Linked DNA regions of Homo sapiens: regions 1 and 3 are each linked to region 2. Evidence: fine-mapped expression QTL. A gene starts in region 2. Each other region holds a variant in brackets. All regions are shown on one strand. Distances are between the middles of the regions.

The links. PIP is the estimated chance that this variant, and not a neighbour inherited with it, causes the effect.
Region 1: its variant is fine-mapped to the expression of CCDC92 in whole blood (TOPMed, PIP above 0.99).
Region 3: its variant is fine-mapped to the expression of CCDC92 in sun-exposed skin (GTEx, PIP 0.99). The same link has a PIP of 0.9 or more in visceral fat.

What each region holds. Positions count from the first base shown.
Region 1 is chr12:123,940,595-123,943,343 of GRCh38, reverse strand. CCDC92 (coiled-coil domain containing 92) reads left to right here. Exons shown (of 5, transcript NM_025140.3): 4 at 559-600. Among named protein-coding and RNA genes, the nearest start is that of DNAH10OS, 7.0 kb to the right of the region's middle. The variant A/T (reference allele first, on the strand shown) is at 1,361.
Region 2 is chr12:123,971,611-123,974,359 of GRCh38, reverse strand. CCDC92 (coiled-coil domain containing 92) reads left to right here and starts at 1,529. Exons shown (of 5, transcript NM_025140.3): 1 at 1,529-1,831. ZNF664-RFLNA (ZNF664-RFLNA readthrough) reads right to left here and starts at 1,145. Exons shown (of 5, transcript NM_001347902.2): 1 at 1,057-1,145; 2 at 340-474. ZNF664 (zinc finger protein 664) reads right to left here and starts at 1,145. Exons shown (of 5, transcript NM_152437.3): 1 at 1,008-1,145; 2 at 340-474. RefSeq lists silencers at 577-806, 917-996, 1,067-1,936, 1,967-2,086 and enhancers at 1,307-2,044, 2,045-2,749.
Region 3 is chr12:123,935,675-123,938,423 of GRCh38, reverse strand. CCDC92 (coiled-coil domain containing 92) reads left to right here. Exons shown (of 5, transcript NM_025140.3): 5 at 594-2,749. The coding sequence ends at 1,366. DNAH10 (dynein axonemal heavy chain 10) reads right to left here. Exons shown (of 79, transcript NM_001372106.1): 79 at 2,710-2,749. Among named protein-coding and RNA genes, the nearest start is that of DNAH10OS, 2.1 kb to the right of the region's middle. RefSeq lists an enhancer at 1-375. The variant A/G (reference allele first, on the strand shown) is at 1,518.

The DNA of each region.
Region 1 (2,749 bases), 31 kb after region 2:
CATCGGGGAGCAGGCCCGGGCAGGCGGGGGGCGGCTATGGGGCACGGCAGAGCCCAGCGTCAGAATGTGCTAGGCCTGCCCTGCCCCCAGCTCCCATCATCGTTGCAGGAGTCCATCTGAATGCCTTATATCATCCTCATTGCATAATCAAGATGCACTAAGCATAAAGCTGCAAAGCCTTTTCTTGGCATACTGAGGACTTAAGAGATTAAAATACAATGGTTAGAATCTCCAATGTGTTTTGGAACTGATAACCAAGATATAGCCTGTGTGATACATAGAGCCAGCTGCTGGATTGTTTGGTTTGGATGGTTGGGATATGCTGTGGGGGAATGGGGAAGGGAGTTTGGGGGAACAGAGGGTGCCCTCTGACCCCAGGGAGCACAGTGGCCGCAGATGTTTTCTGCTGCTCTCATGCTCACCTCTCCTGCTGCCAAACCCTGCTCTGTCTGGGTAGGACTCGCTGGCTAATCGTGGGAATCGGTTTTGCATTTTCAAAGCTGATGAAGATTTTGAAATGTACAGTAAAAGAATTAATGTGTAACATTTCCCTTTTAGATTTAACATATGAGCTGACAGTCAAAAGTTCGGAACAGACAGGTAAGAACTCCTCCCCAGAAGTAAATGACAGTAGGTTTCCCTTTGTGGTACGTGTTGGTGCCGTTTTCACTAGTCACACACTTAGGAGAAAATGCTCTTGCTGGGAAGAGTTATGCGTGTGGCCTGAGCTCTCTAAGAGAAGATGAGAAGGATGTTTGGATCCCTCCGTGTTGCAAGTGGTTATTAGTGGGCAGGGGGATGAGTGATTTTGTTTTCTTTTGAATGACACATATATTTGGAATGCCTATTATATGTTTTTCTGATTTTCCTACAATGAACATGTGTTCCTTGTGTAATCAGGACATAAAAATAGACGTGAGTTAAACCCAAAAGGAGGAGTAACAGCAGCAGCAGCATTGGGCAGAACCGCCCCCGCTCCTCCGTGTCGCTGCCGCCTAGCATGGGCCTGGCACAGAGCAGCAGCTTGCTAAATGCTGGCGGGCGAGTGGTCACATTACTAGACAGCTCCCTGAGGATCTGGGGCTTTCTCTGGACTACAGCCCCAGAACCCTCCCCAAACCAGAATCCTCCAGGACCTCAGGAAACCCCAAAGGGCAGCTGCCTGCTGGCCGCCAGAGAAGAGACAGAAACCCAGGCCTTCCCAGGGCCCTCTGTGCCTGCTGCAAAGAGCCTGCTCCCTAAAACAGGGTGGGTGTTTGGAAAGTGCTGAATCCATGTTTGTGCAGAGACACCTGTTGGAAACGGGTTTATCACGTCGGGAAGGCAATGGATGGCTCAGCAAGGCTAGTTTACTTTCTGC[A/T]GAAAGGGTGCAACTCGCCAGCAGTCTTACCACGAGAGCACACTCAAACAAAGGAGACGAGGACATTTATAATCTTCATAACCTGATGCAATTGCCCTATGACTGTGTCCAGTTTCCATTGACTGGAATGGGACCTCACATTCTAAGCTTGACCCGATTGGCTAACAGCTTGAAACTTTCCTAAATAGGCAAAAGGGAAAGAGGACAAAGAAAAGAGGAAGCTAGTCATGAGAGGGTCAGGAGAGTTTCCAAATAAGGAAGAGCATGCACTATGGTCCAGGGCTCGCTCAGCCCTGCGCAGGCGTGCCGGGGCAAGGCGGAGCAGCTACACTGGAACATATATAGAGATATACATAGAGCAAGGAAATGACAAGCTCTTTATGGTTTCAAGAAACTTTGAAGAACTTCTCCATTCCCCACAATGCCTTTTTCTAAACAGGCCTCACAATGGCAGTTACTATTCATGAGAGTGTCCAGTTCCTTGTAAAAGACACAGACCATTTCCACCAAGCCTTAGTGGATTACCGAGCACTGATTTTTTTCCATTTGCATTGCTCATATTACAGCCTCCTGAGTGCGCCACCCAGGAGCCCAGACATCTTTTTGTCTGCGTGTGGTAGGGAAGGCGCCGTGGGCTTCTTGGGGTGGTGGAATGGGAGCCTGTCCTCAGAAGTCTCCCTGTGGAGGGATACCAGGGACCTCCCCCGAAGCCCTGGGACTGGGAGCTGGGCCTGTGGGAATGCAGAGGAACAGGATTTCAGCCTGACACTAGGGACCTCCAGCGTCCACACCTGCCAGCACTGAAGCCTTGGGAAAGGAGCTACCCGTGTCATGGAAGCCAGGGCGTCCTCGCTCCCTGTCCTCTCCTGGCCCAGGCTAATCTGAAGCAGCATAGTTTTGCCCTGTGGCCTCTCCAGTCACGGTTCTCAACCTGAGGTCCCAAGGCCACCTGCCCACCCACCCACCCACCTGATGTAGTACTCCCAGCAGCAGCAGGGTCTCACAGCAAGGGCTGTGTCTTAGGGGAGGCAGTTTCAAAAGCCTCTCAGGTGGTTCCAGTCGGGGCGTCTCCCCTCCCAGTGGTGAAAATCATTGTTTTACATTAGTGCACCCAAAACTGCCCAATTCCAAGCAGTTTCGGGACCCAGGGTACAGCATAGACTCTTGGCTTCCCTCCCCTGGGGGCTGTGACCCCAGAAGTCTGGGCGGGCCCAGGGAGTGCGCAGGTTTAGAAGCGTTGCAGTGCCCTGACGCTCGGGCAGGCTCAGCAGTGCAGCGTTTGGAGACCAGCAGCAGTTGGCTGCTGTCAGCTCAGTGTGCACCAAGCTTTCATGGGAAGACTGAAATTTCCAGAAAGGGGGTACGTACAGAGGAGGAGGTGGAGTGGAG
Region 2 (2,749 bases):
CTCAGAAATCTTTTTTCGGTATCTGGTCTCCTTTGTTGCAATAAGACAGCCCGTAAGCAATCTAGCAACCAGAACAGTTCAGTTCGGAGCAGGCTCCCGGGGAGATTTAGTTGTTAGAGTTCGGCAAGAAAGGTTTCACAAAGGAGCTGAGTTCTGGGGGAAATGAGAGGTGATGTGGCGGAGAGATGGATCCGGACGGGAAAATGTCTGGGAGGGGGTATACGGAGTTCATGAGAAGCCGGGGACAGTGAGAAAACTGCAGTCGAGTCCTGGAAGGGGTGAGAACGCCTGCGGAGGCGGGAGTCAGAGGGAAGTGGACAGCGCCGGCAGCCGGTTTACCTGGGTGAGAATCCGGCCCTTGTTGTGGTCAAACAATGGAGGCGTCCGGCGGCAGCAGCCTTCTGCGCTGGGTGCGCGAGGGGTTCCTCATCACCTGAGCGGGATGCTCGCCTCCTCTGCCGGACGCAGGGCGCCCTGAAAAACACACAGCACCCCATGCAGCCGGCTCCTCCGCAGCCGCCCGGCTCCCCGGTCCCCTGGCGCGGCCATGACCGCCTCTCCCGGGACCCGCCTGGAAGGGCTCCAAGACGCGGCTCCACGGGCGACGAGGGCGGCAGCGCTCCCCCTTCCCTCGGCTCCAACAACAATGGAGCCTGGCTCGGGAGTCCGGCTCCCGAGGGGCCTCGCCCGGCCTCGCCCTGCCCGCTGCCCAGCCCTCGCTCGCACCGGCCGCCATCTGCGCCCCCCGGCCCCGCTCCCCCGCACTGCGGGCCCGCGGCCGACCGCCCGAGGCCCGAGGGGCGGCTTCTCAGCCCGGGACCCGCCAGGCTGCGCGGAGCCGCTCTGACCTTCCCCGCCATCCCGAGGCCCATCCTCCGGGATGGGTTGTTTTTCTTTTCTTTAAGCCACTCCACCTCCTTCCCACCCCCAGCCCGCTCCCTGGCCCCCGGCCCCCGCCTCCCTCCGGGAAAGAAAGAAAGACTGCAGCCCGGCCGCCGAGAACTCACTCCAAGTGAGGGGAGTCAGCGCCCCAGGCCGCGGGCGCCGCGCACCCACCTCCCTCTCCTCAGGGACACCTCACAGGTGCGCCTCCGAGCCGCGCGCGCGCGCGCTCCGCACACCCAGACGCCTCCGGGGGACAGCGCGCGTGCGCACGCACGAGGCCGGGGAAGCCCCGGGGGAGCGGGGGCCGCACGCATGCGCGGCCACCCGGCCCGCGCCCCCACCGCCCGCCTCCGCCCCCGCCCCCCAGCCCCGGCCCGGTCGGGCCCGGCCATCCCCCACCCCAGCGCCCGGCGCGCGCGCTCCCGCTCGCCTCCCTCGCTCCTCCCCGCGCCCCCCCCTCCCTCGGGCCGCGTTACCCAGGGCAACCGCAGTGCGGCCGCACCTGAGCTGTGCGCCTGCGTCCCGCGGGCCCGACCCTCCCTTCCCCTCGGCCTTCGCCCCTGCCCCGCCACAGCCGGGCGGAAGGGGGCGTAGCCCCGCCTCGCCAAGTGAATATCGGCCCGCCGCCCCCGCCCAGCCCGGCAGACACAGGCCCGCCGCCGCGCCGGCGCCTAGCCCGCCGGGTCAGCGCGGCCAGGCCTCGCCGCCGGCCCCGCTCCCAGGGTGCACCGCGGCTAGCGCTGGGGTGGGAGCGGGCGAGATGCGCCGGGCGGGCGGTGCCCACTGACCTCCCTCGGCGGCCCGGCCCGGGCAGCGCCCGAGCCCAGGCAGCCCCGCCCGCCGCGCCCCGCCCAGCCCATGGGCCACGGGCCCCCACCGCCGCCCGCCGGGAGGACCGAGCCTAAGAGGGCAGCCGCCTGAAGGAACGCGACGGCGGCGCCCGCAGGTGAGGCGGGGCCCGGGGTGTGTCGAGTCCGGCCCCGCTCACCTGGCAGCGCCGGCGGGGGCGGAGGGGCCGGGCAGGGGCGGAGGGGCCGGGCAGGGACGGGAGTTCGTGGCGAAGACTTTAAAAACCCTCCCCGCCGGGAGACGGGGGACGGGGTCCTCCTGCCCCACCTCCGGGGCTTGGGAGCCACGTTAGCTCCCCCAGGGGCAGGGGTGGCCCCGGGCGAAGGCAACTCGGGAGACGGCGGAGTCGGGGAAAGAGGGTCCCTGAGGCTCGGCGACCCCCGCGCCCGCCCCCGCGGGGTCTGCCGGCCCTTTCTGGGGAGGGGGCTCCCCGGCCCGGGCTCCAGTCCAGGGTGCGGACCGGCCGCGGCGCGCGCCCACCCCAGTGCCAAGGGGGAGGAGAGGCCGGTCCCGGGGCGCTCCTGTCTGCCCCGGGGTGGGATCGCAGGGCGAGGGATCCGCATTGCAGGTGCACCAGGAGCGCCCCGGGGCCTAGCCCGGCTTTGTCTGGGATGCTGTGGGGAGGAGGCCGTCTGAATCCACATCGCCTTTTTAAATGCTTGTTACCACCCGGGGAACCTTAGAGACCCTCCCTGACAAGTTGTATCGCCTCCCGTCCTGGTAGCCTTTCCGTAAGTACACTACCTTGCCAGCCCCTTCCTGAAGCTTTGATGCGGCTTTAGTTTACTCTGAGTAACGATTTGCCTGTGATTCGTGAAACGGAGCAGAATGCACAAACGCAGCAGAGCTCCAGGCTTGGCTACTGGGCTGCCGTCTGCTACGGCGAGTGAGTTTCTCTAACTTAGGTTTTCATGCTGACCTGTATTGTTTCATTTCAAGTTTTGGTATTTAGCAGTACGATCTAGTCCACTAAGGAAAATTAGGCTGCCAGAGAGAAAATATAACCGCGCTCTGT
Region 3 (2,749 bases), 36 kb after region 2:
GGGTAAGAGCCACAGAGGCGAGACAGCTCACTCTCTGAGCAGGAAGTGGGAAAGAGTCTGTGTGTGTGTGTGTGTGAGAGAGACGGGGGTAGGGGGGTGAGAGAGGCGGCCAGCGGCAGAGCAAAGGTGACAGCCCCACACCTCTTCTCCTCTAAACATCAGAATTTTAATTCAATAGACATGGATAATTCTTTTTACATTTGAGTTTCAAAACAGTACTTTGAATGTAGCAGGCATTCCATAAATGCCATCTGAGCAGACAGAGGGATTTGCGGCCAGTTGAATCCTAAGTGTTTGCTGAGGTCTGATACTCTGCAATTGCCTGTTTTAAGTTCAGCATCTTTAAGGTTCAGAGACATTCTTTTATGCAGTAGGCCAGAGAACTAAGAGCCGGAAAGGGCCTCTGAGATGCCCCGATCTCCCCACCTCGGGGAGGGGAGGGGTCTTTCCAGAGCCCCCACAGCCCTGCCTTCTGCATGGCCCCCACAGCCTAGACAGGGCCCCCACCAGACAGGTCCGCCTGCCCCATAGGCCTCACCACTCGGCCTCAGTCTAATGAGTTCTTCACCTGCTTCCTCGGCTTATTCTTGTAGGAGACGGGACTTCTAAAAGCAGTGAATTAAAGAAAAGATGTGAAGAGCTGGAAGCCCAACTGAAAGTGAAAGAGAACGAAAATGCTGAGTTGTTGAAAGAACTGGAGCAGAAAAACGCGATGATCACAGTGCTGGAGAACACCATCAAGGAGCGAGAGAAGAAGTACCTGGAGGAGCTGAAGGCCAAGAGTCACAAGCTGACCCTGCTGTCTAGCGAGCTGGAGCAGCGGGCCAGCACCATCGCCTACCTGACCTCCCAGCTGCACGCCGCCAAGAAGAAGCTCATGAGCTCCAGCGGGACCTCAGATGCCAGCCCGTCAGGGAGCCCCGTGCTGGCCAGCTACAAGCCAGCGCCCCCCAAAGACAAGCTACCCGAAACGCCTCGCCGCCGCATGAAAAAGAGCCTCTCAGCCCCCTTGCACCCGGAATTTGAAGAGGTCTACAGATTCGGGGCAGAGAGCAGGAAACTCCTTTTGCGGGAACCAGTGGATGCTATGCCCGACCCCACCCCATTTCTGCTGGCTAGGGAGTCCGCCGAGGTCCACCTCATCAAAGAGAGGCCCCTCGTCATCCCCCCCATCGCCTCCGACCGAAGCGGCGAGCAGCACAGCCCGGCCCGCGAAAAGCCGCACAAGGCCCACGTCGGGGTGGCACATCGGATCCACCACGCCACCCCGCCGCAGGCCCAGCCCGAGGTGAAGACCCTGGCGGTCGACCAGGTGAACGGAGGCAAGGTGGTGAGGAAGCACTCAGGGACGGACAGAACTGTGTGAAGCCCGCCGTGCCCCACCCCGCGCTGTCCATGCACTGTGAGCACCACTGGGAAATCTCAGCCACACCTTTTCTGTTTAATCCCATGCATGCCAAACACTTTTCACACCTACCGACCCATTCTCCTTCTGCTTCTCTTGCCCTCTTCTTCAC[A/G]CCAAAATATGATCGTGTCCCTGCCGCAGAATATGTATTTCCTAATTGCTGTGGCCAAACGCCTGTGTGCCGAATCGCTTGCTTCTGATCCCGCTCCGTGTAACCTAAGTGCGCTGCAGGCAAAGCCCAGGCCACGGCTGCGTCACTACTGATGTTCACGATGCCACACAGTCACACACCTAATTCATTCTCAAGTCGGAGCAACACATACCAACCTTGACCTTATCCTCAAGCTCCAGGGCAGCCTGGCCGAGCAGCCCCTGCTCCCTCCTGGAGACCCTTGTCACCTCCCGAGCTCCTCCTGGAGACCCCTGTCACCTCCTGACCAACCTTTCCCAGGGCGGCACCGATCACCGAGCAGCCGTGCGTGTATCTCAAGGAACTAAATAAGATGACGCTACTCCTCATAGCACCACAACCTGAATGTGTGTTCATATTTTTTTGTTAGTTTTATCCAAAATGTTTAAGATCCCAACAAACTTTATTTTCTAAACCTGCCTTCCTTCTGTTTTGTGTCTTTTATTAAACAAACACCTGAAGGAGGGCTAGGAGACTGCAGGAGGGAGAGCAATCACAGGTCCCAGAAGCGACTCCGGCCTCCTCCCGGCCCAGAGCTAGTCCTTAGAATGTGCTGCGCTCCTGAGCTTCTGTGGGAAGCTGCTTTTGCCTCTGATGGCCCCTGCCCACTGTGCTGCCCGTGCTAGCCCCTCTCCTCCCTCATGGAGTGAAGCCACCCCTCACCTCCAGGTGGCCAGCCAGGGCTCCAGGCCAGCCTCATGGTGCACAGAGGGAAGGGGTGCCCAGTGACCACTGGTCCTGGAGGTTCTGTGTCCTTACCTGACCCCACACAGACCCAGGCAGGCTGGGGGTAGAAGCTCATGCAGGAACTAAACACTAAGCTCAACAACTTCACAGTCGCCGTAGCAGGTCAGAGCCAAAGAAGCTAGGGCCAGAGAGTTCTGGAAGGGGGAGAAGTGGCTCCAGGTGACTGGTCACTTCTGCTCTGTGCCCGACATCATCAGCCCTTCTTGCCAAAAAGGAGCATCTGCTGAAACAGACCTGGATCATCGAAAACACACCTTTGGAAATTACATTAGGATTCTCACTTGTGCCAATGCTATGTATGCCAGGCACTTTTGCCTAATCAAGTGTTTTCTCTGAGAAGGAAAAGAAAACTCCACACATCTTAAAATACTCTCCAATATTTACTTTTTGATTATATAAATTCCTTT